7 linked regions of the Homo sapiens genome follow. The protein of the gene in region 6 purifies or fractionates together with the protein of the main gene of each other region. This does not show direct contact. Each region holds a gene or a part of one and is shown on either strand. Other genes may lie near its edges.

Region 1 (3,500 bases), on a different chromosome or scaffold from region 6:
TCCCTTGCACAAGAGCAGAAGCTTTGTTTTGCTTTCATCTGTATGCTCCGTGTTGGGAACAGCACATGTGGTGTTGTGGGCCTTGCACAGATACACATGGAACAGATGAAAGAGTTGTCATCTTCAGCATGTTTGCTGGGACACACAGCTCTATATGGTAACATCGTGACTTGATGGGGGAGTCGGTTTAGGAAAGGGCACTCCGAGTCCTGTTGAATGCAAGTGTTCTGCACGCCATGGGACTTCTGCGTTGTCAGGCCCTCTTTTCATCAGTAGTAGAATGTCAGTGCATGTATAGACAAACGAGACACTCTTTCTTATCAGTTTGTAGACTCCACTGTGCTGGAGTAGCACAGATGTGTTGTGTGTTTGCACAAACATGCAAACATGATACTTTTTGCTTTACAATCCAGCTTTTTCGGCCATTAACACAGTCCTTGTTGTCCTTGAAGCTTGATTATCTGTTGAAATGTAGCTTGTGCATCACAGGGCAATTTGTAGATTTTTTTCTTCTCCTTTTTTTTTTTTTTCCTATAGAGATGAGGTTTCATTATGTTGCCCAGGCTGGTTTTAAACTTCTGAGCTCAAGTGATCCTCCCACCTTGGCCTCCCGAAGTGCTAGGATTACAAGTGTGAGCCATCATGCCTAGCCAGTTTGCAGATTTTCAATACCTGTACACCTACATGCCAGTAAATATAGGAATCCTTTTCAGAACCTAAGTGGTAGGAACCATCATCATGTTTACAGGTGAGGAAACTGAGGCTCAGAAAGGCAGTCACTTCTGCAGGTCTCAGAGATGGTCAGGGTTTCACTTCTTATCTCTCTGAGATGAATAGAGTTTCTGACCCCTGTCCTCATCCCGTGGGTCTTGAGCTTGTAGCCACTGTGCCTTGTGCATAGCCTCACGTGTAGCAGGTGGTCAGGACTGTCACTAGACTTGAAGGCAGAGCTCTCCAGGTGGCCCCACCGAAGTTTGCACCACCACACGCAGCACCAGGGCACCACCTCAGTGGGAGTACCACTTTCCATGGTGGCAGGGTTGGTCGGAGGGGGGGGTGTTTGGGGTTGTGGCTTAGCACCTGTGAGGCCCCATCCAGAGGACTAAGTCATATGAGATCCCTGGAATTGGGGCTCGCTCTCAGGTCAGGATGATTAGGCGATGACCACCCACCTGTAGTACAGGTACCAGGAAGAGAAGAGTGGGTAAGGTAAGGAAATCCTAGGGAGTGAGGGAGAGCCCCAGGGATTTGGAGGCCTGGCACCCACAGGCCTGGCACCACTTTGGTGGGGGAGGAGCCTGCCTGTGATCACGAGCTCTTGCTCTAACACCTGTATTGCTTTCTCCAGTCTGAATCAGACCACGTAATTCCCTTGGCATCCAGCACATGAGCAGAGCTGGCCCTGAATCTGTAGGGTACCACCTGAGGGCTCTCTGGGCAGTCAGGGTGGGTGGATTCTGCCCCCGTGGGGAGTCCTTGGCAGTGTGGGCTTTCATGGGCAGAAGCCAGGACCAGGGGAGAGGATTCCAGCCCTGCATGTTGGGGGCTATGATTCCTGGGCCTGGGTGTCCTCCTCTTTCCTGACTGCAAAGGGTGCTGTGTTCCTCCTCCCGCAACCCCTAAGCAGGAGAGGCTGGAGAGGAGGAGGAGAAGGAGCCGCTGCCCAGCCTAGATGTCTTCCTGAGCCGCTACACGAGTGAGGACAATGCCTCCTTCCAGGAGATCATGGAGGTGGCCAAGGAGAGAAGCCGGGCACGCCACGCTTGGCTCTACCAGGCTGAGGAAGAGTTTGAGAAGGTGTCTCTGGGGTCTGGGGTGTCACATAGGCGTAGGCACCCTCTGTGGTGGTTGGGGAGCCCCAGGGCCATGGGTACAATGCCCAGGGGCATCTCTGACCATCACTTTTCCCCATGTGATTGCAGAGGCAGAAAGATAATCTCGAACTCCCGTCAGCAGAGCACCAGGCCATCGAGAGCAGCCAGGCCAGTGTGGAGACCTGGAAGTACAAGGCCAAGAATTCCCTCATGTACTATCCAGAGGGTAAGTGGCGGGCCTCGCAGCCAAATGGGGAGGTGTTGGGTAGAGCTGTGTGTGTCTGGCTGTGTTTGGAGCAGCCTTCCAGGTGTGTATGGCCGTGCCCCCTTGCAGTTTGGGCTTCTGATGGGTACTGGTCTGTCTAAGGGTGGACAGGTCTGTGTGAGGTCAGCAGTGAGTGAGACCCTCTCCAGCGGCACTGGGGCCTGCGTTCTGCTCAATGCTTTTGTTCATCTGGGAGTGACTTGGCCGAGAAGCGAGCTCCTCATGCTCCTTAGGCTGCTGCCCTTCTGACACCTGCTGCTACCTTTGCTTCGTCTGCCAGGTGTCCCTGACGAGGAGCAGCTGTTTAAGAAGCCCCGGCAGGTGGTACATAAGAACACGCGCTTCCTTAGGGACCCCTTCAGCCAAGCCCTGAGCAGGTGCCAGCTCCAGCAGGCAGCCGCCCTCAATGCCCAGGTGAGCAGGCGGGTCAGCAGGGCCGCATGGGCCAGGTTGGACAGGGCTGCCTGGGGGCAGGCATGATCTCTCCCATCTCTTTGAGCTTGGCAGAGCTCAGTGAGTGGAACCATCTGGGGCCCTGTGCGGCAGGATCCTGAGTCTTTCCTTGGCCCCAGTGGGCTTCCATTGAACACTGCCTTGGTCACACACGTTCTGTAGGTCCAGATCTGTGCCAGCTCCCTTGATGGCAGGGGCAGGAGAGAAAAGGGACTGCTGGGAGTGAGCCCAGGCTGGCAGCTGCACGCCCACACACCGGGCAGGGAAGCCAGAGAGCCGCAGAGGGAGCCCAGCCCCAGGGGGTGGCTGGGGTGGGACAGGCCCTGGGTTGGCAGAGAGCAGAGGCTTTCTGAGTCTGGGAGCAAGACGAGTAGATACTCTCTGATGGTGACTGTGGCAGTCACAGGGTTGAAGTGGGGAAGGCAGGAAGAGACTAGAGCATAAGCATTGCCTGTCATCAGCATTGCCTGTCATCAGCATTGCCCCCTGCAGGGGCCTGGCGTCAGCATCCTCTGGAGTTGCTGGGATAGGCGCAGCTCGAGTGGAGGCCCTGGCACCTCCCTGGATGGGAGGAGGGGGCTTTCCTTGCTTGGGTACCCACTTTGACAGGCCCTCAAGGTCTTTTGGGGGGTTGGGGCAGGGGCCCTCCCTCTCTTTCTCCAAGAAGGCTGCCAACCCCAGAGCCCCAGCCTTGCCCTGAGGAGAGGAAGTGTTTCCAGCATGTTCCCACGTGTTTGCCCACCGGCCAGCTGTCGAGCGTGGGCTGCGGTCCCCCTGATGCCAGCCTCTCTGCTTGTTCCAGCACAAACAGGGCAAGGTGGGCCCCGATGGCAAGGAGCTGATCCCCCAGGAGTCCCCTCGAGTGGGTGGATTTGGATTTGTTGCCACTCCTTCCCCTGCCCCTGGTGAGAAAAGTGCCCACTGGCAAGTGGGTCTACTGCTGGGACTCCCTGGGGGAGGTGGGCTTC
Region 2 (3,500 bases), on a different chromosome or scaffold from region 6:
CTGGGTTTCAGGGCAGGGTGCTTCTCATTGCTGTCAGCCAGCACATGTAATTTCTGAAGGAGTCTTGGTGGTTTGCACTTGGAGAAGTGGGTTAAGGAAGTATTAAGTTCATTTCCCAAATAACCTGTTTTCATGTACAGTTCAAGTCCAACAGGAAGAAAGAGAATTCAGTGAACCACTGACTCCTCTAGAGGAAAAATGGAAGCTCTGGCCTTGGGCAGCTTCTCCACATCCAAGACGATGGTCAGCACAGGGCTGGAAGTTGCTTAGGCAGAACATAGCCAGGGATCCCTTAGTTTTTTTTGTTGTTGTTGCTAAAATTCCAGTGTGACTCATTTTCATCCTGGTTATATGTCAGGCTATCTCTGTGCCCCCTGCATAGTTACCAGAACAGTAGTAATCAGGAAAGTTCTTGAGGATTCCTTCTCTGGGGATTCAGGTGGCTTAATCATGTGCAGGTTCCTTGGCATCTTGCTGCTGAGAAAATCTGTCTTTGAGCAGTTAACATCGATGGGAACATAGCCAATCCCCAGCAGAAGAGGTTGTTGAGGAAAAGAACGTTACATGGATAGGAGTAGTTCCATAATTCAACTTTATACTCTTTCTTAAAACATGTAACTTAATTTCCTTTAGCAATAAAACAATAGTTATTTTAAACCATTCCAAAGATTCTACCAACCTGACACATTTGCATATACTTATTGTTTTTCTTGTGTCTCGAAGTTATAATTAGCCTGTTTCTTACTCAATGCCTTGTGTGTTTCTTGATTTCAAAATCCTTACCTACCTCCCAGTAACTAAGGGAAACAATCTTGCTGTTTAGGATGGGTGCCTATATTACAGGAGACTTAAATCAATAAACAACAGTAAAGGTAACCTTACTGGTTTTTTTTATGCTTTTAGTCAGTGGTCATCAAACTGTGGCCCATGGACCAGAAAATCTGGCCTGCTGCCTGTTTTTGTAAGTAGTTTATTGGAACACAGCCACACCCATTCCTTAATGTCCTGTGTTCATACTACACCAGCAGAGCGGACTAGTTGCCACAGAGATCACATGGCCCGCAAACCAAAAATACGTACTGTCTTTCCATTTGGCTCTTCACAGAGGTTGCCAGCTTTGTTGCATCATGTTTACATAGATTCACGGTTGGTTATCTTTAAAGACTAAGCCATCTGTACTCTCGGAAGTCAGGGCTGAGTTACTCAGGCCGGTGACCTGGCTACTTGCTCTGCCCGAGAAGGTCAGGCTTCATAGTGGCCTTTAAGTGTAAAGGGTGTGGATTCTTTGTATTGTTGCCATGCCCATGCCCATTAAACAGTCAACACAGAGTCCATTAGGAGATGCACTGAGTCTCCTGGACAGAGAAAGACCATGTTGTACAGTATTGTTCAAGTGTGTATGTGTATGTGCATGTCATTTTTTTTTTTTTTTTTTTAAGACAGAGTCTCACCCTGTCACCCAGGCTGGAGTGCAATGGCGTGATTTCAGCTAGCTGAAACCTCCGCCTCCCGGGTTCAAGCAATTCTCCTGCCTCAGCCTCCCGAGTAGCTGGGATTACAGCTGCCTACCACCATGCCCGGCTAATTTTTTGTATCTTTAGTAGAGACGGTTTCACCATGTTGGCCAGGCTGGTCTCAAACTCCTGACCTCGTGATCCACCTGCCTCGGCCTCCCAAAGTGCTGGGATTACAGGCGTGAGCCACTGCGCCTGGCCCACATTTGAGCTTTTAACCAGTGGGCCTCTTCAGGCGAAACCTTGTGTCAATGCCCAATGATGAAATAGAAAGGCTTAGTGGCTGTGGTTGAGGGATGGGCATGGGAGGGTGACAGTGGGGGTCTTGGAGCCCTTATCCGCTTCTTTCCCCTATGCTAGTGGCAGCCCGTGCAGTTCATCTGCAGACCCAGACTCCCAGGATGAGATCACGCCTGTGATGGAAACACCACTCTGTGGCTCAGGGATCTGACAGATCTGAGTTTGAATTCAGCTGCTGTCACTTATTAGCTGTATGTCCTTGGTCAAGTTATTAATCCAAGTCTCAGTTTCCTCTTTATTAAAACAGAGATCATGATATTTACCTTGCAGGCTATGAGGATTGAAAAATATTATTTTGCTGCCTCCTTTACAATAAATCTTTAGGCGGGGTGCGGTGGCTCACGCCTGTAATCCCAGCACTTTGGGAGGCCGAGGCAGGTGGATCACCTGAGGTCAGGAGTTCGAGACCAGCCTGACCAACATGTAGAAACCCCATCTCTACTGAAAATACAAAATTAGCTGGGCGTGGTGGCTCATGCCTGTAATCCCAGCTACTCAGGAGGCTGAGGCAGGAGAATCACTTGAACCCAGGAGATGGAGGTTGCAGTGACCGAGATCACGCCATTGCATTCCAGCCTGGGCAACAAGAACGAAACTCCGTCTCAAAAAAAAAAAAAAATCTTTAGAGGCAATATCTGTATGTCTGTCTGAGTTTTTCTGTTGCTTCTTGTCAAATTACCACAAACTCAATGGTTTAAAACAACATAAATTCATTATTTTATGCTTCTGAAGGTCAGGAGACTAAAAGGGATCTCTCTAGGGTTGCTGTACTGCATTCCTTCAGGAGGCTGTAGGGGAGAATGTTTACTTACGTTTTCCAGCCAGGAGGGTGGGGCAAATGTGTATGAAATGAATGAAATATAGTCATGTGCCAGTTGACATTTTAGTCAACAACAGACTGTATATGTGACAGTTGTCCCATAAGGTTATAATGAAGCTGAAAAATTCCTATCACCTAGTGTTATTGTAGCCATTGTAAAATGTTGTAGTGCTACGCATTACTCACGTGTTTGTGGTGATGCTGGTCTAAACAACCCTACTTCTTTGCTAGTCATATAAAAGTGTACAGTAGGGCCCTAGGCTCTCCCATTCACTTACCATCACTGACGGGCTCACCCAGAGTAACTTCCAGTCCTATGTAGATGTACCATTTATTATTGTTTATACTGTGTTTTTTCTTGTCCACGTTTAGATATATTTAAGTACACAAACACCATTGTGTTACAGTTTTCTACAGTATTCAGTACAGTCACATGCTGTATAGGTTTGGAGCCTAGGAGCAGTAGGCTGTACCATGTAATGTAGGTAGTACACTATACTACCTAGATTTGTAAGTACACTGATGTTTGCGCAGTGACATACCACTTTTCTCAGAACATAACCCCATTGTTAAGTGGCATGTGACTGTATACCTGAGAGTCTCACTCAGGCTGGCACAGAGACACTCAGTAAATGATAGTTATAATTATCAGTAAAGCATTTACTTGAAGTACTGTCAGTTTGTTGTCATTCAGGGAAAATTTGCAACTAAGATAGCTCTTATGAATATATATCATGATATATTCCTCTTGCTTTGAGGAGAATCTTAATTTTTTTTTTTAAGCTGGCATTTCTTGAGCTCTTTCTCCAGGGCTCATGGTCTTAACCATTGCACTAGACTACCTCTTGTAGTTGCAGAGAGAAGAT
Region 3 (3,500 bases), on a different chromosome or scaffold from region 6:
AAGCACATACAGGAAAAGCCACCGTGAGCAAGTCAGCAGAACCACAGCAGAACTGAACCTCCGAGAAGGCAGCTGTTGAGATCCTAAGTTAAAGAAGATAAACTAAGAATGCTTGAGATATTCACAGACTAGAGGAAGGAAACAGCCTGAACCAGGAGCCACATGACCGCTAAACGTGACCTGGAGACTGGAAAGGAATCAGAGGGAACATCTAGAAATGACAAGTATGATACATGACCGCCAAACATGACGTGGAGACTGGAAAGGAGTCAGAGAACATCTAGAAATGACAAGTATGATACATGACCGCCAAACATGACGTGGAGACTGGAAAGGAGTCAGAGAACATCTAGAAATGACAAGTATGATACATGACCGCCAAACATGACGTGGAGACTGGAAAGGAGTCAGAGAACATCTAGAAATGACAAGTATGATACATGACCGCCAAACATGACGTGGAGACTGGAAAGGAGTCAGAGAACATCTAGAAATGACAAGTATGATACATGACCGCCAAACATGACGTGGAGACTGGAAAGGAGTCAGAGAACATCTAGAAATGACAAGTATGACAGATGAAACTGTGTGGGTTTAGCAGCAGGTCCATTTTGGCTAAACAGATCTTGTATTAGTGGATGGAAAGGAAAACCAGAAGAAATGCGGGCTAAAGAGCCAAACAGAAAACAAGAGACACTAGGAACCGTGGAGGCCAGGGTGAGGCACAGCACACGTTTAAACAAAGTTTGGGGGTGTGAGGCTTAAAGTGACAGTGGCCAGCAATTTTCTCTAAATTATGAAAGCCTGAATACACAGGATCGGGAGCACAGCATCCATCCATCTCATAATGAAATTGCAGGACACCAAACGCAAAGAGAATATCTTAAATGCACCCAAGGAAAAAACGCAAATTACCTCTGAGAGCGGACACCGAGACTGAGACTCGGCTTTGCCACGGCCACAGTGGGAGCCAGAAGCCGTGTGACAGATCCAGCAAGTGTGACTCCTTACTCTCCACCGCCAGCTTAGAATCAAGCCTTGAAGTAGATGCTCGTTCAAGAATCTGCTTGTGATAAAGGCATTTTCAAATGGGAAACAATGTATCACAACAGGAAACTCAGTAGAGCGAGCTGTAAAGGGAGCCTGGCCCTGCAGAAAGGGGCTGAGACAGATAGGCAGAGGAACGCAGCCTGCAGGGAAGAGCAGTGCAAACTCTGAAGCTCTGCCACCTGGACGGCCTTAGTTATCTGTGTTTGGGGGAGAAAAATTAGAGCCCTCACCAGCCCCACACAATAAATAAATAAGCTCTGAGTGTTTCTAAGCCTAAGACATCTTTGTGAGCTCTGGAAACAAGGGCTTCTTTAAGAAGGCCCCAAAAGCCCAAGGAAAACATTAAGAAATTCAACTACATTAAATTTTAAACTTCTTTATATTGAAATTAAAAGTGAAAACAAAATCCACAAAAGGATAACGAACAGAGATTAAGTATCCAGAATAGGTGCAGAATTAGTTGTCAACAAGAAGGTGGCAAACAACTCAGAAAAGAGCAAAAACCATGAATGGGGTTTCGCAGAAATGGAAAAATAAATAGAAATGCTCATCCTTCTTAGTGATCAGCAAGTAAAGCCAGAGGGACGTCCTTTCATGCCCATCAGAATGATGATGGTTTGGGGGAGAGGGTGGAGACCAGTGGTCTTACCCAGTACCCTTCTTGTGACCTCCTTGGTGACATTCAGTCGGGTTGGGAGCTTCTTGCATGTTCAGACAAGAAAACGTGCTCAGATACCTGAAATAGCAAACAACTGGAGACAGCCCACAGGTGCATCATTAGAGGAATGGACAGGTAAGTTGTTCTCTATCATAACATATACTGAAAAGCAGTGAGAATCAATTATTAGAACTACATGGATCACCTAGGTGGATCTCACAAAGATAATCCACAAAGAAAATTCAGGAGGAATGCGTACGGTGCAATGACATACAACATGTTTAAGACATACAAGACGGTTTTGTTTTAAGAATCTGTAACTATTGGCCAGGCGCAGTGGCTCACACCTGTAATCCCAGCACTTTGGGAGGCTGAGGAGGGCGGATCACGAGGTCAGGAGTTCGAGAGCAGCCTGACCAACATAGTGAAACCCCATCTCTACTAGAAATACAAAAATTAGCCGGACATGGTGGTGCATGCCTTTAATCCCACCACTCAGGAGGCTGAGGCAGGAGAATCGCTTGAACCTTGGAGGTGGAGGTTGCAGTAAGCTGAGATTGTGCCACTGCACTCCAGCCTGGGCGATAGAGTGAGACTCTGTCTCAAAAAAAAACAAAAAAAATCTGTATACAAAATATAAATGTGTGTGGGGATGACACATATGTACTCTAGCAAGTGAGGACCCCAACTGGGGATGGGATAGGAGACCATCTTTCTTTCCAGAGTGGCAACACAGTGCAGGGGGGTCCCTGTCTTAGCAGTGACTTGCTGGTGTGCAGAGGGGTCACTCTCTTAGCAGTGACTTGCGGGTGTGCAGGGGGTTCACCACCTTACCAGTGACTTGCAGGGGGTCCCTGTCTTAACAGTGACTTGCGGGTGTGCAGGGGGGTTCGCTGTCTTAGCAGTGACTTGCGGGTGTGCGGGGGGGTTCACTGTCTTAGCAGTGACTTGCGGGTGTGCAGGGGGTTTCACTGTCTTAGCAGTGACTTGCGGGTGTGCGGGGGGGTTCACTGTCTTAGCAGTGACTTGGGGGGTCCCTGTCTTAGCAGTGACTTGCGGGTGTGCGGGGGTTCACTGTCTTAGTGACTTGCGGGTGTGCGGGGGGTTCACTGTCTTAGTGATTTGCATGTGTGGGGGGGGTTCACTGTCTTAGTGACTTGCGGGTGTGCGGGGGTTCACTGTCTTAGTGACTTGCGGGTGTGCGGGGGTTCACTGTCTTAGCAGTGACTTGTGGGTGTGCGGGGGTTCACTGTCTTAGTGACTTGGTGTGCGGGGGGGTTCACTGTCTTAGTGACTTGTGGGTGTGCGGGTGGTTCACTGTCTTAGTGACTTGCGGGTGTGCGGGGGGTTCACTAGTGACTTGCGGGTGTGCGGGGGGTTCACTGTCTTAGTGACTTGCGGGTGTGCGGGGGGTTCACTGTCTTAGTGACTTGCGGGTGTGCGGGGGGGTTCACTTAGTGACTTTCGGGTGTGTGGGGGTTCACTGTCTTAGTGACTTGCGGGTGTGCGGGGTTCACTGTCTTAGTGACTTGCGGGTGTGCGGGGGGTTCACTGTCTTAGTGACTTGCGGGTGTGCAGGGGGTTCACTTAGCAGTGACTTGCGGGTGTGTGTGTGGGGTTCACTGTCTTAGCAGTGACTTGCGGGGGGGGTCCCTGTCTTATCAGTGACTTGCGGGTGTGTGTGGGGGGTTCACTGTCTTAGCAGTGACTTGCGGGGGGGGTCCCTGTCTTATCAGTGACTTGCGAGTGTGCGGGGGTTCACTGTCTTAGTGACTTGCGGGTGTGCAGGGGG
Region 4 (3,461 bases), on a different chromosome or scaffold from region 6:
GCAACCAACCAACCAACCAATCAAAAATGGCCCAAATGAACCAGTGAACTAAAGTAGAAAAGGATCACTTCCCATCCAGAACTGTTTTTCGAAAAATGTCAATAAATTCAGCTCTTAAAAGAGCTTTTTATATTAAACCAGGCATCTTTCAAAGAGAAGCAGCTACCTTTGAGGTTCTTGAACTTAGGTTGCAACACAAAGATAAGTATAATAGAGAGAGTGCACAATGTTAAATCAAAGGTAGAGGGGAAGAGGATTGTGGGGACAGTTATTCTGGAGATCAAGAAAGAATTCAGTATGCTTAATGCAAAGTAACTGCTGGGGTCCTTGTGTGTTAAATATTCTTATGCGAGGAAACTGTCTTCATGTTTTATATTTGCCTTCATTTTCTTTTATTATTTCCAGACCACCTCTATTGGTTATGCTAAGTAATCCTTTTCTCTTTTTGGAGTTTAAACTTTTTAAGGAAACAAAAACTAAAGAACAGAAAGCCAGACACATTGGAAATACAAACTCTTCTTTTACTGCATAAGAAATGAGAAGAAAAACTTAGTGTGAAATTCTGGAGTCTAAAATTAAAATGTAAACAGAGAATGCTCAGTGACCTTTTCTTAGGAGGCTCACATGAAGGAATGTCATGGTACATTGACCAAACTTTTATTCATTTGCATTTTCAGGATGTTGCGATTAATACCACATGACACTCAATAAATTACACTACGACATTTTGTACAAATCACTTCACTTCTGGTTTCCTCTTCGGCTGTTACTTCACCCTCTGGTTACCTGTAGGGAAAAAAAATGTATTTTGGGGCTTTATCTTTAAAGGGCGATTCACAGTTCTAGCCAATGTAAAGATATTGGTTCCCAAGGAAATAGCTACCTAAGTTATGTTTTTTTTTTTTTTTTGAAGGAGTTTTTGCTCGTCGCCCAGGCTGGAGTACAGTGGCGCCATCTCAGCTCACTGCAACCTCCCCATCCCGGGTTCAAGTGATTCTCCTGCCTCAGCCTCCACAGTAGCTAGGACTACAGGTGCCTGCCACCATGGCTGGCTAATTTTTGTCTTTTTAGTAGAGACGGGGTTTCACCATGTTGGGCCGGATGATCTCGATCTCCTGACCTCAGGTGATCCGCCCGCCTGGGCCTCCCAAAGTGCTGGGATTACAGGCGTGAGCCACTGCACCCGGCTCGTGTTCTAAGGAAATAGCTACCTAAGGTATCTTATTAAAACAAATGAACAAAAAGTTTCCCAAACTGTGTTCTAAGGAAATAGCTACCTATCTTATTAAAAAAAAACAAAAACAAAGTTTTATGCTCTAATAAGTTTGGGAAATGCTAGGTTAAACAAAGCTAAACATGATTCTTTCCAGTGGGACATCTGAGAGTCTTTAATTAGCTAACAGTGCATTGTGATTCTGCAAAGGAGGAACAATAATTCACTGTTTCCCAAACTTATCTGACCATAGAACATATTTCTCAGAGTATTTTTCAAGAGTAGTATTTTCTGTAATATATGATGAAAAATAATCGTATCGGCCATCTTTGTACATAAGGTCAAAATGTCAGGCAGCCCTGAAATAAACGCAAGCCAAAAGGTAGAGAGATAAGTGAATAAAGCTGGCACACTGTCAGTCCGGAGTACCATGCTGCATTCTGAGTCAAGCTCCAGGAAACTGAGCTAGGGTTTGTCTCTAAGAAGAAAAACTGGAGCGTCCAAAGCTTCTGGATTCCATTTAATTAAAACCCTTTTAAATTAAATCCTTGTAACTGAAGAGTATCGGTGGATGAAGAAAAAATAGTCTCACATGTCTTCATTTCCATCCTTGGCTCAGTACAGCTCCAGTTCCATTATTCTTAAACATCTATTAACATGATTGCTAAATAATTACACAGGCTAACTGCCAAGCATTTTTCACAGGAAGCAAGGCACTGCTCTTCTGGCTTATGCAAAAGGGTCACTGTTTTTTTTTTTTTTTTAACTTTATCTTGTTTTGATTGAAGAAACATCTCTAAAAATACCATCTGAGTGCAAGATAAAAAGGAAATAGCAATTCAAGGCACAAAGCTAAGCACATGCAACAATATAGATGATTTGGGGGTGGGACAGTACAGAATTCAGAACTGATAGAAGTTATCAGCTCCATATTTCAGAAAGACCTAATGTCTTCCTTCTGCTTATACTGTTCTGACAGAATTTTAATTTTGGCAGAGATCACTCTCGATGTTATGATGTACTGATTCAGAGGTCCCAAATCAGTAACCTGATCCTAGATAGATCCTCAAAGGTCAACTGCCACTAGGTGTCCCCTTCTTGATCATTCTTCATGCTGCCTGGATTGGGGCATGGCTAAGCACTCAAGTCAAAGGATTAGTTGGCAATATCCTACATTGTCAACAAAGCTTTGAAGAAAAACAGAGACAGAAACTGGTATTTACTAAGTACCTAGGTGATAAATTATTTTCATAAACATTACCCTATAAAACAGACAACTCTCCTGTCCCAAATCCAAACAGATCTTTTTCCTTTATTTACAGATAAAGAAAATGGGCTTAGAGAGGTTATAAAATTTGTCTAAGGTCTAACCAAATGCTGATAAGCAAATTAGGTACAACTCTGAGCCAGGTCTCGATGAGTCCAAAGTGTGTTTTATAATATCTTGCTGTCTCTTGATCATTACAAAATTTCATTTGTTTACAGGAGCACAAATGGCCTATTTATGCCTTTTCTCTCAGCATCTAGCAAAACATCTCAACTTTTATTACACCAACTTTGGGAGTCTTGATGATGTTTAAATCTTCTCATTCATTTGCCTAAATCAATAGAGCTATTTATCCTCAACTGTTGGCAATGAACTTTCTTAACTCAGAATTTTGAAAAAAAAAAAAAAAAAAGAAGAAGAAATTCTAAATACTTGAATTGCTTCATTTCATGCTCATTCTTTTGGGCATGGCTCTTTTTGGTTTTCTTTACAAAGAGATTCTAAAATCATGACACATTTAGATATGAAAAATAGGATGGAGAGCAATGGGAACACTAATCTGAAATAGTCACATGGCTAGAGTACCTGTGTCTGTAGTAATCCCAAACTATATAGAAAACTCTTGAATTTATTAAGCAATCCCTCATGTGTGCTTGATTGAAAAAATAAACAAAGCAGTGCCGTAGAACTGTAGACTTGGATTCTACCCCCACTCTTCCATAGTTGCCACCCTGGTTAAGTCTCTCTGATTGTTTCCTCATTATTTAAAATAAGTACAGCTCTTAAATTCCTTCAAAAATTCCCAAGATTCTACAGTCAACTGCCACTCACTTGCCTTTCCAATGAATAAACCGTTTAAAAGAATTCAAATCCCACCACCTTTACCCTTTCTAAATTCTTTTGACAAGGACAAAGGACTTACCCATCCATCTTCCACCTAAATTTGCTTTTTAGTGATAGAAAAACCAAGCAGCAAAGAAA
Region 5 (3,500 bases), on a different chromosome or scaffold from region 6:
CCTCCCAAAGTGCTAGGATGACAGGCGTGAGCGATGCACGTGGCCTTAATATAAGACTTTATAAACAGCAATTCAGTGAGGAGTTCTGGGAAGCCAATCAATAAAGCCAGGCCATAAGGCTACTCTGGCTAGTCCTTTCCTCTAGAAAACCTCTTGATACAACAAGAAGCCTTTTTATCAGACCAGTATATGGGAAATGCCAGAAGGCTGATGAGCCTGGACCTGAGGCCATTCAGAAAGGCAGTGACCTGTGGCTCGCACCTGACCTTCCCAGGAGGGCCATCTCAAGTGGTTGGTGGTGTGAAGGCTGCTTCTCATAGCCCATGAGGCCAGTGACCCTGGAAGATTGTTTCATACAGCCAGCAAGAGAGTGTTTCCCCAGCCAGACCAAGACTCCTTCTGTAAGGCCATTTTGCATGGCTAACAGGAGCCAATGTGAGGCTGCTCCCAGCGGGGTAGATGGACACAACAAACAATTCTTTCCTGGCACAATGAAGAAACCACAGATCGATTTGTAAAACTAAGACAAAATCTGACTTCACCTGGTCCTCAGACAAGCCCCCATCTATAGGAAGGCCAGTTTTTAAAACAAGTTACAAGGGCCGGGCGTGGTGGCTCACACCTGTAATCCCGGCACTTTAGGAGGCTGAGGTGGGTGGATCACTTGTGGTCAGGAGTTGGAGACCAGCCTGGCCAACATGGCGAAACCCCGTCTCTACTAAAAATACAAAAATTAGTCGGGCGTGATGGCATGCGTGCCTGTGGTCCCAGCTACTCAGAGGCTGAGGCAGGAGAATCACTTGAACCTGGGAGGTGGAGTTTGCAGTGAGCCGAGATCGCATCACTGCACTCCAGACTGGGTGACAGAGCAAGACTCCATCTCACAAAACTGCTTTGGAAGACTGCTTCCTATACCAGGATGTGGCTGTTTGATATGGTAACTACATAAAAGGCCAAATCATGAGAGGTTTGGGGAAGCCTATGCAACAAGGCAGAAGACTGATGCGGCCAGAATGCCACTTCACCATGCTGCCAACATAAGGCCTTGTAGGAGGCTATAGTTTTATTTTTTGAAACAGGGTCTCACTCTGTCACCCAGATGGGAGTGCAGAGGCACAAACACAGTTCACTTGCAGCCTTAAACTCCTGAGCTCAAGCAATCTTCCTGCTTCAGCTCCCGGAGTAGCTGGGGCTACAGGTGTGTGCCACCATGACCAGCTAACTAATTTTTTAATTGTTTTTAGAGACAGGGTCTTTACATGTTGCCCAGGCTGGTCTCGAATTCTTGGGCTCAAGCAGTCCTCCTGTTTCAGACTCCCGAGTAGCTGGGATTATAGGTGCCCTGCTGGGGGATAGTGTATAATAATCTTGAGGCCTTTGGGGAGGCCATTTCAAGTGGCTTATACAGAGGCAATCTGAAAAGCCATTTTGAAAACAAACTTATACAGCCATCCTGAAGCCTCTGTCTCTGGAAAACCATCATATATTGTCAACGTAAGTATCTCTGAAGGCCTTTTGATAAGGCCGTTCATTGAAGAACTCTGCATTAAAGAATAATCATAAGGCTATTTCATGTGGCCAAGAGCAGATAGTTTTGTACAGCCAACTCACAGTATTAGGAGGCCATCTTTCCCAGAAGGCTGTGTCCATTGGCCTTCAACATGAGGTCTCCAAGGCCGATTTGCAAAGTAGCAGATAGGCCGCCTATGAAGACCAAACATGAGGCCACCCTGGGAGGCCAGGTGACAAAGCAGACACGGGGCCACTGGGGGAACCTGGCTACAAAGCCGCACACGTGAGGCCACCTTGAGAAGCTGGCTTGGTAAGGCTGATAGGCGCCCTGTGAGGGGCCGTTTTATAAGGTCACCCTGAAACACCAATTTACAAAGCCCGTAATCTGCATTGCAGAGAACAGGTTTATAGCCCATTTGAAACCCTCTGGGAGGCTGTTTTCTAAGGCCATCAAGAGACAGGTTTACAAAGCTGGTACATAGAGCCCCAGTGGAAGCCAGTTTTATAGTAGGGCAATAAATGGTCTCCTGGGAGGCCTTTCCACTGGCCTTTATGAGAAGCCAGGATATGAGGCCCCTGAGGTCTTTTGGATGCTCAAGATGAGACTTCTCCATGTTGCTCTATAAGATTCATGTAAGCCACACACGGGATGAGCCAGGAGGCCACCCAGGGAGGCCAGGGATGGGCCCATGTGGTGTCTTGTGCTGGCCTAGTGGATAAGTCCATGCTGGAAATTGGACTGTGAAACGCTCCAAGAAGGCTGTGAATGAGGCCAACACAAGCCTTCTAGGAGGCTAGAGATAGAACCCACCCTGGCAGGCTGGGGCTCTCTGAGCCCTACCATACCCTGAGCTTGCTAGAAAGAAAGTTCATTGTGAACCAAGAATGGAAATGAACTCATTATAAGCTCAGCCCTGTGGATACAAAGTCCAAAGAGCTCACCCTTGAAGGCAATGAGTGTTCTGGGCAGACACTGCCACTTACTGTGTAGTTTGGCACAAATTGCTTAACCTCGAAATCTCAGTTTATTCATCTGTAAAACTCCCATCATAGGATTGCAAGGGACGTGTTAATCTATGTCAAGCATGCAGCATTGACATGGCGCACAGGAGAGGGTGCTGAGATCAGCCAGAATTTAAGCCCTGCTTCTGCACAAATGATTGACCGTAGGCCTTGGGGCAAGTCACTTCATTTTTGTTTTTTTGTTTTAATTTGAGTCAGGATCTTGCTCTGTCACCCAGGCTGGTGGCATGATCTCGGCTTACTGCAACCTTTGCCCCCAGGCTTAAGTGATCCCACCACCTTTAATCTCCTGAGTAGCTGGGACCACAGGCATGTACCGCCGTGCCCAACTAATTTTTGTATTTTTTGTAGAGACGGCGTCTTGCCATGTTGGCCAGGCTGGTCTTGAATTCCTGAGCTCAAGTGATCCAATTGCCTCGGCCTCCCAAAGTGCTGGGATTACAGGCGTGAGCCACCATGCCGGCCTTCTCGAATACTTTTCAAAGCCTGGCACTCCTGAGTGACTGCCATGAGGCAGACTCTGCTTTTAGGCTCTGGGAAACGTAGGGGAATGAGCTACGTTCTTGCCCTGGTGGAGCTGGCAGTGCAGTGTTGGATAGACACACGTGTAAGCAGGTGTTTTCATACATCCTGACGAGTACTGTAAGAGAAGCTCAAGGGCTGCAGGAACACAGAACACTGTTGGAGAGTCTTGGCAGGCCTCACATAGGGATATTTAAGATGGGCTTTAAAGGTTGGGTAGGAGTTTGCCAGGCAGCGGAGGGGTATGGGAGGCACTGCAGATGAGGACAATACACGTTCCTTTCTGAACAGACGTTTATCCAGTGCTTGCTGAGTACCAGGTGTTGCGCCAGGCCCTGAAGATACAGTGGTGACCCCAGACAGATGAGGGCCCTCCCCTCCAGAGCTTCTGCCCAACAGAGAAGACTGCTGTTGAAAAATCCTCGCAGATGAGATGCAGGAAG
Region 6 (3,500 bases):
GCTTGCAAACCTGAGGAACAGCAGGTGCAGGCCAGCTGCACTTGGCCTTTGAAGACAGCCAGGAAGCCAGTGTGGCTGGAACAGAGTGAACGAGAGATAGAGGGGTAAGAGTTAGGCTTGGAGAGGCAGGCAGGGGCCCCACAGGCCGTGGGAAGGGGTTTGACTTGATTCTAAAAACCATATGAATCATGGGAGGGGTTTAAGCAGGAGAGTGACACGTTTGTTCATATTAAAAGATCCCAGCTGGGCATGGTGGCTCACACCTGTAATGCCAGCACTTTGGGAGGTTGGGGCGGGTGGATCATGAGGTAAAGAGATCAAGACCATCCTGGGCAACATGGTGAAACCCTGTCTCTATTAAAAATACAAAATTAGCTGGGTGTGGTGGCGCACGCTTGTAGTCCCAGCTACTCGGGAGACTGAGGCAGGAGAATCACTTGAACCCAGGAGGTGGAGGTTGCAGTGAGCAGAGATCGCGCCACTGCACTCCAGCCTGGTGACAGAGCGAGACTCCATCTCAAAAAACAAAAAGATCCCCTGGGCAGCTGTGGGGTGAGCAAGTGTCAAGGGCAGAGTCGGGAGAGAGAAGACCGTGCTGGCCCACGTGAGTGATGATGGGTGCTGGACCCGGTGGGGGCCACAGAGGGATGAAAGTGTCAGATGTGATGCGTATATTGGCTGTAGAGTGGACGGGACTCTCTCTTTCTAAACAGACACGCCGCTTTTTGGATGCCTCCTATGCCTGGCGGGAGTCTTGTCTGAGCTGGCACCACCACACGGCCCACGACATCTTCGCAGGGAAGCCTGTGGACCCTCTGCCAGGCTCCACAAGAGGTCAGGACAGTGCAGTGTGTTCACAAGGCCAGTTTCTGATCGTCCGCCCCGAGGCTGAGGACCAGTAGGCAGCTCCCAAGATGGTGAGTAGACAGCCTCGTGTGCCCTGGGTTTCTCTCCCAGTCTTTGTAGGACCCTGGAAGCAGCCCCTCCTCCCCTCCCAGAGCTCTAAGATGATGATTTCAATCTCCGGGTCATCATCTTTTGGTGCAGTGGGTCTGAAATGTGGCTTTGCGCTAACATCACCCATGGGCACTTTTTAAATGTTTTTTTGTTTCATTTTCTTTTGTTTTTGAGACAGTCTCACTTTGTTGCCTAGGCTGGAGTGCAGTGGCACGCTCTCGGCTCACTGCAACCTCCGCCTTCTGGGTTCAAGCAAGCACGTCCCACTAATTTTTGTATTTTTAGTAGAGACGGGGTTTTGCCATGTTGGTCAGGCTGGTCTGAAACTCCTGACCTCAAGTGATCCACTACACTCAACCTAAATTTCCCCTTCCCCCTTTCCCCTCCCCCTCCCCTACCCCTTCCTTTCTCTTTCTTTCTTTCATTTTTTTTTAACAAGGTGAAATTCATATAACATAAAATTAACCATTGCAAGGCCAGGCACAGTGGCTCACGCCTGTAATACCAGCAGTTTGGGAGGCCAAGGCAGGCAAATCATTTAAGATTAGGAGTTTGAGACCAGCCTGGCCAACATGGCGAAACCCTGTCTCTACTAAAAATACAAAAATTAGGCTGGGCGCGGTGGCTCACGCCTGTAATCCCAGCACTTTGCGAGGTTGAGCTGGGTGGATCACCTGAGGTCAGGAGTTTGAGACTACCCTGGCCAACGTGGTGAAACCCCGTCTCTACTAAAAATACAAAAATTAGCCAGGCGTGTTGGCGGGAGCCTGTAGTCCCAGCCACTCTGGAGGGTGAGGCAGGAGAATCGCTTGAACCCGGGAGGTGGAGGTTGCAGTGGGCTGAGAACATGCCACCACACTCCAGCCTGGGCAACGAAAGCGAAACTCCATCTCAAAAAAAAAAATACAAAAATTAGTTGGATGTGGTAGCACATTCCTGTAGTCCCTGCTACTCAGGAGGCTAAGGCACGAGGATTGCTTGAACTCAGGAGGCAGAGGTTGCAGTGAGCCAAGATTGCACCACTGCACCCAAGCCTGCGTGACAGAGCAAGACTCTGTCTCAAAAAAAAAAAAGAAGAAAACAAGAGCGACTCTTCAGCCAGGCTCAGTGTTCTTTCTTGAGACCTGTGTTCAACGGTACTACATGTGTATCTGCCCAGTGGCAATGTTAAATACTTCTTACCGTCAATCACAGTCTCCAAAAGAGTGTGAAAGCCACCATAGGAGCATCTGAACCTCATGGAATTTTCCAAAGCAATGACAATGGGTTTTTTGCCCAAGTAGCCCTTCCCCAATCAGACACTGAGCCCAGCACTGTCCTCTAAAATGTCCCCAAGTCCCCCTTATCCAGGTCCTGCCCCCTGAGGCTGCACAAGTAGGTTTCCTGGAGGGAGCCTGTGTATTAGTCCAGTCTCACGCTGCTCATAAAGACATACCCAAGGGCTGGGCGCGGTGGCTCACGCCTGTAATCCCAGCACTTTGGGAGGTCGAGGTAGGTGGGTCACAAGGTCAGGAGTTCAAGACCAGCCTGGCCAATATGGTGAAACTTTGTCTGTACTAAAAATACAAAAAAATTAGCTGGGCGTAGTGGCACATGCCTGTAATCCCAGCTACTCGGGAGGCTGAGGCAGGAGAATTGCTTGAATCCGGGAGGCGGAGGTTGCAGTGAGATGAGATCGCACCATTGCACTCCAGCCTGGGCAACAAGAGTGAAACTCTGTCTCAAAAAAAAAAAAAAAAAAAAAAAAGACATACTCAAGCCTGGGTAATTTATAAAGGAAAGAGGTTTAATTGACTCACAGTTCAGCATGGCTGGGGAGGCCTCAGGAAACTTAACAATCATGGCAGAAGGGGAAGCAAACACATCCTTCTTCACGTGGCAGCAGCAAGAATGAGCAAGAGGAAAAGCTCCTTGTAAAACCATGAGGTCTCTCGAGAACTCATTCGCTGTCATGAGAACAGCATGATTCGCCCCCATGATTCGATTCAGTTACCTCCCACCAGGTCCCTCCCATGACACGTGGGGATTATGGGAACTACAATTCAAGATGAGATTTCGCCTGTAATCCCAGCACTTTGGGAGGCTGAGGTGGGTGCATCACTTGATGTCAGGAGTTCAAGACCAGCCTGGCCAACATGGTGAAACCCCATCTCTACTAAAAATACAAAAAATTAGCTGGGCGTGGTGGTGCATGCCTGTAATCCTAGCTACTCAGGAGGCTGAGGCAGGAGAATCGCCTGAACTCGGGAAACGGAGGTTACAGTGAGTCAAGATCGCACCACTGCACTCCAGCATGGGTGACAGAGCAAGACTCCATCTCTAAAAATTAATAGTAAAATAAAAAATCAGAAAAAATTTTTTTGAATGAGATTTGGGTAGGGACACAGCCAAACCATATCAGCCTCTCTCTGAGTCATGTCTCTGTTCTGCTTTGCAGGGTGAAAGGAAAGGGGTCAACAAGTACTATCCTCCAGACTTCAACCCTGAGAAGGTAAGCAGGCTCTCCGCTCCAGGTCCACAGTAGCAAAAAGACCCACGTCATC
Region 7 (3,500 bases), on a different chromosome or scaffold from region 6:
AGTGCCCATCAAGAGTCCTGTAACTCAAGTCATTTCATGTAGCCAGTCCTATTGGATTTTCCAACATGGATGCCCTTTCTTTAAGAACAAAGATTTCTTAAAGGGAGGAGCTGAACTCAGGAGGGATCACAGTAAGAAAATGGAAATGTGACCAGGCGCGGTGGCTCACGCCTGTAATCCCAGCACTTTGGGAGGCCGAGGTGGGCGGATTACCTGAGGTCAGGAGTTCGAGACCAGCCTGGCCAACGTGGCAAAACCTCATCTCTACTAAAAATACAAAAAGTCGGGCATGATGTTGCACGCCTGTAATCCCAGCTACTCAGGAGGCTGAGGCAGGAGAATCGCTTGAACCCAGGAGGTGGATGTTGCAGTGAACCGAGGTTGCGCCATTGCACTCCAGCCTGGGCAACAGAGTAAGACTCTGTCTCAAAAAAAAAATCAAAATAAAAGTAAAAGTAAGAAGATGGAAATTTGCTTAGCTGTGAAAGGAAAGGCGATCTGTCTGATGTCCTGTGTTTGGTGCCTAGGTGGGCTTGGTGCTTGCATTTCCTGCGTTGCAGTGTCAGGATTTTTCAGGGATCAGCCTTGGCACTGGAGACCTTCACATTTTCCATCTGGTTACTATGGCACACATCATACAGATCTTACTTACCTCATGTACAGGTAACTCTTGCCTTTTTGTCAGTTTCTTGAAGGAAATACTTGAGTTTTCTGAGTTTTAAAAAAAGTATTAGAGGAAAAGGTATTTGGATGAGAATAACACATGAATAAGGCTGTTTTTTTCTGTGTATCTTCATATGAAAAGTTTTGAAACATTTCTTTCTCCTCTTAAAATTTCCTAGTAATGTGAATGTTTCTAGTTTTAATTTCATACATTCAGTAATATTTGTGTAGAATAGTAATTAAATCTTTTAGAATCTTATGTTTTAGAATGCCAATTTTGTTTTAACTTACATGTTTGTTAATGCCCACATGAATTCATCATTAAATTACGTTTTGCATTCAAAATTCTTGTTTTTCATACACTTTAAGACTATATTTATTTGATTTTACTTAAAACATGCCAGCTGGCTGTTTGGTTTGATTGAGATCAATACTGTGCTCCCACTTGAGGGATTACAATTTTGCATGTTTTCTAGGAATACTTCATGTTATATGTGAGTTTATGAATATATTTGCATGCTTAATGTCTTCAGTCCTTTTGATAACACTTAATTGGAAAATACAGAGTACTAGTATTTCCTTATCTTTCAGAAGAGAATGGCATGGATCAAGAAAATCCCCCTTGTGAAGAAGAATCAGCAGTTCTTGCTTTGTATAAAACACTTCACCAGTATACGGGAAGGTGAGTTAGTTATCTTTACATAACGCATTTCCCTAAATATTGCTAGATGATGATAGCATGAGAAAGGAATTCGTTTGTTAATTAGGGGAATTTGTTGTCTGTTGACATGTTTTTAAAATAAGACGTGGAGTGATCTGCAGAGCCTTTCTGAACTATTCATATACTAACATAATTGGAAATCTGGGAGAAAGGTGATAATATGCAGAGCTTCCCACATTTATTTGGCTGTGGAACCCTTCATTTGCTCAGGGATCTGGCAGAGACTAGAGGATAGATCAAATGTACTTTGGAAAGTTGATACTCTAAAACTTATGTTGTCTCATTCAGAATGGGAATTTAAAACTGCAAGTTAAATTGGCATAATTTATTTTTAAGGTAATATTCAGTAGTAGCAGGAATAAAATGAAATTATTAGAATTCCATGTATGGTTAGAGTCATGATTTGCTACAAATAGCAATTCAGTAGTTTGCTTAGCTTTCAACAGTATATATGTCAAGAATCTGTAGTCAGGAACCTATAAAAATGTCTGTTTTTTGACTATCCCATTTCTGAGAACCTACATTAACAAAATAATTCAACATATAGAAAAAAAACATATAGGCATATAAAGATGGACACTCCAGCCAGGCACGGTGTCTCACCCCTATAATCCCAGCACTTTGGGAGAATGAGGCTGGCAGATTGCTTGAGCCCAGGCATTTGAGACCAGCCTGGCCAACATGGTGAAACCCTGTCTCTACCAAAAAATACAAAAATTAGCCAGGCATGGTAGCATGTGCCTGTGGTTCTATCTTCTCAGGAGGTTGAGGTAGTCAGATCACCCAGGCAGGTGAAGGCTGCAGTGAGCCATCACACCACTGCACTCCAGACTGGACAAAAGAGTGAGACCCTGTCTCAAAAAGAAAAAGATGTACACTCTGATATTATTTATATTAGCAAATAATTGAAAGCAATCTAAGTGTTTGCAGGGGAATAGTTTGATATAGTGATGAATGTGTTCCAAAATATTATAAATCTATTTAAAATATGGCTCCTAGGAGCTGGGTGCAGTGGCATGTGCCTGTAGTCCCAGCTGCTCAGGAGGCTGAGGTGGGAGGATTGCTGGAGCCCAGTAGTTTGAGTCCAGCCTGGACAACTTTTCATTTTCCACATTTTCTCTTTATGTCACTATGTTACTTTTATAAATTTTAATAACATCACACCTGTAATCCCAGCACTTTGGGAGGCCAAGGCGGGCAGATCACAAGATCAGGAGATCGAGACCATCCTGGCTAACACAGCGAAACCCCGTCTCTACTAAAAATACAAAAAATTAGCCGGGCGTGGTGGCAGGCACCTGTAGTCCCAGCTACTCAGGAGGCTGAGGCAGGAGAATGGCGTGAACCCAGGAGGCAGAGCTTGCAGTGAGCCGAGATTGTGCCACTGCACTCCAGCCTGGGCGACAGAGCGAGACTCCGTCTCAAAAAATTTAATAACAGCATTGGAGGCTGTGTCACCACTTACACCTGGCATCCTATAATAACACACACCCACTTGCCTGTTAACTCACAACTTTTAAGCATACATGCCATCAGTTCCAAATGACAGTCAAGTCTGTTTTCACACTATAAGTACAGTGACCTTTTCTTAGTAGATTTCCCAATAATCTTTTTTTTCTTTTTTAGTGCCTTGAAAGAAATACCATCCGGCTGGCATCTGTGGAGGAGTGTCAGAGCTGGAATCATGCCTTTCCTGAAGTGTTCTGCTTTATTTTTTCATTACTTAAATGGAGTTCCTTCCCCACCCGACATTCAAGGTAATTTATACTTTCTTTCAAAACGTAGGGAGAGTTAGTAATCCTTTACTCCAGCAAATATAAAGATCACTTGCAAAAATGAAAATTGACTAAAAGTTCAAAGAATAGCTTATTGACTATGGTGATGTACACATTTATAGCATAAAATGTATGTTTATGCATATGTCTCCATTTATTTGGATCTCAGTAAATGACTGTTAAACTTCTGTGTAAATGTTTTTACACCTGCAAAGCCCTTCTCCCGTAAAGATCATAGTTTTGCTTTCAGATGTTAAAATGTTCAGTTATGTATTATTCATAAACAAGGTTCCTCAGATTTGAAAAGGTGAAAACTGACAATTTCAAGTGATTTTTAACTT

The links.
Region 1: the proteins of YJU2B (region 6) and ESS2 purify together in Homo sapiens (co-immunoprecipitation; 2 studies listed by BioGRID and IntAct, with this or other methods). This does not show direct contact.
Region 2: the proteins of YJU2B (region 6) and RIOX2 purify together in Homo sapiens (affinity purification with mass spectrometry; 2 studies listed by BioGRID and IntAct, with this or other methods). This does not show direct contact.
Region 3: the proteins of YJU2B (region 6) and PPP2R2D purify together in Homo sapiens (affinity purification with mass spectrometry; 3 studies listed by BioGRID and IntAct, with this or other methods). This does not show direct contact.
Region 4: the proteins of YJU2B (region 6) and AQR purify together in Homo sapiens (co-immunoprecipitation; 2 studies listed by BioGRID and IntAct, with this or other methods). This does not show direct contact.
Region 5: the proteins of YJU2B (region 6) and KDM8 purify together in Homo sapiens (affinity purification with mass spectrometry; 3 studies listed by BioGRID and IntAct, with this or other methods). This does not show direct contact.
Region 7: the proteins of YJU2B (region 6) and UBR2 purify together in Homo sapiens (affinity purification with mass spectrometry; 2 studies listed by BioGRID and IntAct, with this or other methods). This does not show direct contact.

What each region holds. Positions count from the first base shown.
Region 1 is NC_000022.11:19,138,152-19,141,651, reverse strand, and holds part of ESS2 (splicing factor ESS-2 homolog), read left to right. Parts: intron 1-1,624; coding exon of another isoform or gene 1,625-1,627; coding exon 1,628-1,797; intron 1,798-1,922; coding exon 1,923-2,040; intron 2,041-2,359; coding exon 2,360-2,493; intron 2,494-3,172; coding exon of another isoform or gene 3,173-3,232; exon of another isoform or gene 3,233-3,334; coding exon 3,335-3,437; intron 3,438-3,500. UniProt on the Homo sapiens protein: May be involved in pre-mRNA splicing.
Region 2 is NC_000003.12:97,955,432-97,958,931, reverse strand, and holds part of RIOX2 (ribosomal oxygenase 2), read left to right. Parts: intron 1-3,500. UniProt on the Homo sapiens protein: Oxygenase that can act as both a histone lysine demethylase and a ribosomal histidine hydroxylase. Is involved in the demethylation of trimethylated 'Lys-9' on histone H3 (H3K9me3), leading to an increase in ribosomal RNA expression.
Region 3 is NC_000010.11:131,949,508-131,953,007, forward strand, and holds part of PPP2R2D (serine/threonine-protein phosphatase 2A 55 kDa regulatory subunit B delta isoform), read left to right. Parts: exon of another isoform or gene 1-897; intron 898-3,500. UniProt on the Homo sapiens protein: Substrate-recognition subunit of protein phosphatase 2A (PP2A) that plays a key role in cell cycle by controlling mitosis entry and exit. Involved in chromosome clustering during late mitosis by mediating dephosphorylation of MKI67.
Region 4 is NC_000015.10:34,851,282-34,854,742, forward strand, and holds the end of AQR (RNA helicase aquarius), read right to left. Parts: 3' UTR 501-3,461; downstream 1-500.
Region 5 is NC_000016.10:27,206,526-27,210,025, forward strand, and holds part of KDM8 (bifunctional peptidase and arginyl-hydroxylase JMJD5), read left to right. Parts: intron 1-3,500. UniProt on the Homo sapiens protein: Bifunctional enzyme that acts both as an endopeptidase and 2-oxoglutarate-dependent monooxygenase.
Region 6 is NC_000019.10:13,750,895-13,754,394, forward strand, and holds part of YJU2B (probable splicing factor YJU2B), read left to right. Parts: intron 1-713; 5' UTR 714-914; coding exon 915-917; intron 918-3,394; coding exon 3,395-3,448; intron 3,449-3,500. UniProt on the Homo sapiens protein: May be involved in mRNA splicing.
Region 7 is NC_000006.12:42,675,529-42,679,028, forward strand, and holds part of UBR2 (E3 ubiquitin-protein ligase UBR2), read left to right. Parts: intron 1-527; coding exon 528-663; intron 664-1,254; coding exon 1,255-1,345; intron 1,346-3,010; coding exon 3,011-3,141; intron 3,142-3,500. UniProt on the Homo sapiens protein: E3 ubiquitin-protein ligase which is a component of the N-end rule pathway.